Linked DNA regions of Homo sapiens: region 2 is linked to region 1. Evidence: fine-mapped expression QTL. A gene starts in region 1. The other region holds a variant in brackets. All regions are shown on one strand. Distances are from middle to middle. Region 1 holds the start of ZNF677 (zinc finger protein 677). Region 2 has its middle 3.4 kb from the start of ZNF813.

What was found.
Region 2: its variant is fine-mapped to the expression of ZNF677 in activated CD8 T cells (Schmiedel 2018, PIP 0.95).

Annotation. Positions count from the first base shown.
Region 1 is chr19:53,253,759-53,256,667 of GRCh38, reverse strand. ZNF677 (zinc finger protein 677) reads left to right here and starts at 1,795. Exons shown (of 5, transcript NM_182609.4): 1 at 1,795-1,834.
Region 2 is chr19:53,462,843-53,465,751 of GRCh38, reverse strand. It overlaps the pseudogene VN1R102P. Among named protein-coding and RNA genes, the nearest start is that of ZNF813, 3.4 kb to the left of the region's middle. The variant C/T (reference allele first, on the strand shown) is at 1,662.

The DNA of each region.
Region 1 (2,909 bases):
TTAATATTTGATTTGGGAAACCTATGAAAATATAATAATTCTGCAAAATGGAATTTGAAAGTATGGAATCTTGTGCATTTAATACATTGAAAAGAGAAAGAGGCTGGGCGCTGTGGCTCACACCTGTAATCCCAGCACTTTGGGAGGCCAAGATGGGTGGGTCACAAGGTCAAAAGATCGAGACATCGTAGCTAATACGGTGAAACCCCGTCTGTACGGGTGAGACTCCGTCTCAAAAAAAAAAAATTTAAATACATATATGTATTTTTATATGTAAAATAAATAGAATTTTTATATGTGTATGTTTATATGTAAATAACATATATGTATTTTTATGCTAAAATGCACTCTCATTTTTTTTTCACCCTTCACCTGTTATCAGATGTAATTCCCAGTTACGAAAACAGAGACCCAAAGAGACAGTGGATAGACCTTGGTTTACTCAGATACCCCCATATGGGCTCATCTTCTCTTGGGGAGCCTCCAGTCAATAAGTTTCCTCTCTGGGCCCAAGAGAAATCAATTCAGTTGGCCAGGAGAATTGCCAAGCACATATTATGTTAAAAATACTCTTCCAAATAACTGAGAATAAAGACTTTACAGACTAAAGGCCAGGAGCGGTGGCTCACGCCTATAACCCCAGCACTTCATGAGGCCCAGGTGGGCGGATCACATGAGCTCAGGGGTCCCAGACCAACCTGGCTAACGTGGTGAAACCCCGTCTCTACTAAAAATGCAAAAATTAGCCAGGCATGGTGGCACACGCCTGTAGTCCCAGGTACTCGGGAGGCTGAGGCAGGAAAATCGCTTGACCCAGGAGGCGTAGGTTGCCGTGAGCCGAGATCGCGCCATTACAATCCAGCCTGGGAAACAGAGACTCCATCTCAAAATAATAATAAAAATAATAATAACGATAGTATATTAGTAATTAATAACTTAGACAAAACACAACATACCAACTCCAATAAATCCAGCACTTGGATTTGTAATTTATCTCAAGAAATGTGCATTAGGATAATAAAGGAAAATAAATTTAGATCGATACAAGCAGAACTTTGCGTTCTTTTAAAGCCAAGCCTCAGCCTTCCACCCCCCACCGCCCAGGGTCTGACCCCATAAATTCTCTGGAACTCAGCCCATGGTGCATCTCTGCCTCCTGGGTGACTGGGGAGCGGAAATAAAAATTACGTTCCAGTGAAAGTCAATATAAAATTGTACACTCCGCACAGGCACAAAAATGCATCTCATTCCAGTTTCCATCACCTACGCAGACAACTCCAGCTTTCGCTTAATTAAATACAAATTTTAATCGTCCGGATTTCAGAAGTTCCTGGATCCAAGAGCTTCCTTATACCGTCGCCCTCTCCCATCCACCAGGTCCCAGCGCTCCTCCCGCCTCGTCGCAGGACGCGCCTCCATCGCTCGCAGAAACGTTTTCAAGCAAACCTTTCCCATCTTAAGCTCCGATTCCAATATAAGGGGCCCACAGGTCTCTAATTTTTTACTTAGCTAGGCTCCAAAGGACACCATAGAGATTCAAGGGAATCCAAAAGTGAAGAATCGAGTACTGCTGGGCGACAAACAGGCCTAAAAAAGTCGCTGGGACGCGCCGAGGAGAGGTCCGGCAGTCCGACCCCTAGGCCCCGCCCATCCCGCCATTGTCCCCGCCCATCCCGCCATTGTCCCCGCCCATCCCCGCCATTTGCCCGCCCATCCCCACAGTTGTCCGCGCCCTGCCCCTGCCCTTGCCCCTTGCGCCGCCCCAGTGCACTCGCGTACGCGCAGGTTCCTGCCGACCCGGAAGCGGATCTCGCGGGGCTACTGGCGCTCTCGGGTGAGTCTCCGTCTTTCGGGTTCAAGCCTGCGCCTCGCGGGCCACAGGTTCCCACGCTCCGCTGTCGGGTTTTGGGGTCGCCCTGTAGGTTAAAACCCCGAACCTGCTCATTCCTCTCGCGGCGTGGCCCTAAGACGTTCCCAGTCCCGTCGCTCCGAGAGGGTCTAGAGATCTGCGTCCATTTCGGATTAAAATCGTTCTGAAGTGGGTACTGGCCCCGACCTTTTTGCTTTAGGTCAGTGTGGACACCGACCGCCCACCGCGTCGTTTCTCTGCTTAAAACTCTTCTCTGACTCCCTCTTCCCTCCCCCTGGTAAAGCCCTCACTCGGGGTGGATACACACCCTTCGCCCTTCTCCAGGGAGAACAGAGGGGAAGCAGAAATGGAGGATAAAGAGGGAGAAATGCGCGAAATTAGAGAGCCATCAGAAACAATAGCAGGGACTGAAAAAAAGGATGCTACCAGGATGGGGCCAAACACTCTGTCAGAGAAGGAGAGGAAGGGAAGCCAAATGAGCAGAAAGGGACAGGAAAACGCCGAAATGGGAAAAAGAAAAGGAAAGAAACAGAAGGTGGAAGAGAAACATTTATAGAGAGGGGGAAAAAAATCACATAATGGTGGAGAAAGGGGGGGGCACCCAAATCCATGTGAGTGTGGATTGATTTAATATGGAACATTAAGTTGTGAAGTACTGATGTATGGCTCTATAATTAATTTAAAATTTGCTTCATTGTTTGTGCAGAAGAGCATGAAAATTGCAAAACTACGGTGTGAGGCTTCTGCGTTTTCTAATTATTACATCAGAAGCAACCCTTATTCAGCCAGAGGGTTAACTGACTTAGCTCAGTTAATTCCAGCTCACCCTCTTCCCTTTCTCTGATCTTGAGGAGAGTCAAGAAATGGGAAGAAACTGTGACACCGTATGCTGCTTTTGCAAACAGACATTAACAATATTATTCCCTCCTTTTTTGTGTGTGGCTTGTGTCATTTTCTAAATTTGACGTGTATTCAACTTGTCTTAAATGTAATTCCATAATTTATTGGATTTAAAAAAAATTTTCAAAGTATTTTCTCT
Region 2 (2,909 bases), 210 kb before region 1:
ATTACAGGTGCATGCCACCATTGTTTTTTTTTGTTTGAGACAGAGTCTCGCTCTGTTGCCTAAGCTGGAGAGCAATGACACGATCTCAGCTGCTTACTGCAACCTCTGCCTCCCGGGTTCAAGCGATTCTCCTGGCTCAGGCTCTCGAGTAGCTAGGAGCCCAGCTAACTTTTGTATTTTTAGTAGAGATGGGGTTTCACCATGTAGGGCAGGCTGGTCTCAAACTCCTGACCTTGTGATCCACCCGCCCAAGCCTTCCAATTTTCTGGGATTACAGGTGTGAGCCACCACGCCTGGCCTTTTGTTTTGTATTTTTAGTAGAGAGGTGGTTTCACCATGTTGGCCATGCTAGTTTCAAACTCTTGACCTCAAGTGATCTGTCCACCTCGACCTCCCAAAGTGGTGAGATTACAGGTGTGGGCCACCACACGTGGCAAGGAAAACTCGTAGAAGTTACGCCTGCATTCCACTGGACTCAAGCTGAATGAGCACATTTCTCTCAAGGTGTAGCAGGACGAGCCACAGACAAAAGCCCTCACACACAGGGTTAAAGAAGGAAGTTGCTTTATTTGGCCGGGAGCATCGGCTGACTGGCATCTCAAGAACCGAGCTCCCCCAAGAAGGAGTTCCTGGTCCTTTTAAGGGCTTACAACTGTAAGGGGTTCCACGTGAAAGGGTCATGATAGATTGAGAGCACATGTGGTTAGAGTTGGGGGTTAATATTTTAACCTCAGGCCTGGTCATCAGTGGCACCAGCTGGTCTTGCCACTGACTTCATTCCTGTTGTTTTTCAGCTTTTACTTCAGAGACAGGAGACAGTAAGAGAAATGGCCTCTCTCTTCAAAGGCTCATAATTATTTAAAGGTCATAGCTTTAAATTGGAATTATTTGATGTATGAATTATTTAATTTCCTACTGAGATACAGGTACTGTCTCCCTTGTATTTTGCCTTTCAAAGAGAGCTCCCAAGTCCTTCAGAAATACATCCCTGGGTCATCAAGCTGAAAAAAGGTTTAGTTAGTTTCTAAAAAATACCACTTCAGACCAGGTGTGGTGGTTCACACCTGTAATCCCAGCACTTTCAGAGGCCAAGATGGCGAATCACTTGAGGTCAGGAGTTCGAAACCGGGCTTGTACCCGGAAGTTGAAGGCTGCGGTGAACTGGGATCGTGCAATTGCACTCTAGCCTAAGCAACAAAAGCAAAACTCCATCTAAAAAACAAACAACAAAAACAAAACAACAAAAAACCTCAGAAGACAGACAAAATCCATTTACAAATTTTCTAAATAAGTCTCCTAAGAAAAGAGACGAAAGGAAAGTAAATCTCTTTATTTTCACAGGAGGAATTACACCTCTCATTTATTTGCTTGTTTGTTTGAGACAGGGTCTAGCTCTGACACCCAGGCTAGAGTGTGGTGGTGAGATCAGGGCTCACTGCAGCCTCCAACTCCCTGGCTCAAGCGATCCTCCCACCTCAGCGCTCCAGCAGCTGGGACCACAGGCGCGCACCACCACACTTGGCTGATTTTTTTATATTTTTATTAGAGACGACGTCTCATCATGTTGCCCAGGCTGATCTCAAACTCCTGGGCTCAAGCGATCCTCTCACTTCGGCCACTCAAAGTGCTGGGATTACAAGTGTGAACCACCGCTCCGGGCC[C/T]TGACTTTATTTCCATGAAATATGAAATTGTCCTTCACCTCCTGTGTATAATAGGCAGTTCTGCTTGTCACCCTTCAGTTTCCATTATCCACTCAAACAACCCAACCCAGGACCTTGCTTAGTTTAATAAGCCGTTCTAATTGTCTGTGCCCGCTGCAACCAGCGCCCCACTCCACCCCTTTACCGAGGTCCCTGACCCTCTCCACCGCCCTGCCCCAGACTGAGGGGAGCTTGCCCCGCCTGCAGGACGCGCGACTCTACCTTCTCCAAAAAAGCTCTTTGCATTGAAACTATTTTCAACTTAAGAGGAAAAACGATTCAACGTTCAGTACAGGTGGCCCACTACAATATGTTGTTTTACCTTCGATTGTTCGAAATAGTAACTTCAACGGGCAGGAAGCATCCCTGTGATATTAGGGGTAATATCATGGCACATCAGAAACAATCCACCAATCAGAACCCGGAGGACCCAGTCCTGGAGGGCAAGAGGATGAGAGCAGGCGACATCCACGGCCCAGCTGAGAAAAGAATCCGGACCCGCCCCCTCCAGGCCCCGCCCTTCAGAACAAAAAACCCCTTCCAGACCCCACCCCCAAGATGACGCTAACCCTCGGGTCCCGCCTTTTCCTGCTGTCCAGCCCGGCCCCCAGGCAGCCTCCTCCCTCTTGCCCCGCCCACTCCCATTCCAGGCCCCACCCCCACCCTCTAACCAGGCCCGGTTTCCAAAGCTGCCTCCACCCTCTCTCCCCGACCCAGCACCTGTTCTGGCCCGGCCCCCTCGGCGACCTTTACCCCTCCCGTTCCGTCCCCGCTCTCTGTCCAGAACCCGCCCAGAAGGAATCTGGGTGCTTCGGGATGTTGAAATCCCCACGCGAGTTTGTGCAGTTGTCAGGGAGTCCCGGCTTCCCCATGGGAAGCTCGCAGGCCCAGTGGCTCTGCAGCTTTTGTATCGTTTTAGACCGTGTCCTCCGCCTTTCAATACCCTATTGCCCTTTCCAATAATCCCAGTTGGCGGCTGCTGAGCGCCTCACCCTTCATCCACCCATGTTTCCCAGCTGTCAGCCCCTTTGTTCTCGTGAGCGCTGACTCCACAGTGTGGATCTTTGCTTGGCATGCTGGATGAGGACTACCAAATTCCTGCTTTTGTGAGAATTGGATTAATTGTCTGTTTTTGTATAACGTTCAGTCGTTTTGTTGCCTAAAATGGTGTCACAGTCCACACCCCATGTGAGAGTTCTTGGATCTTGC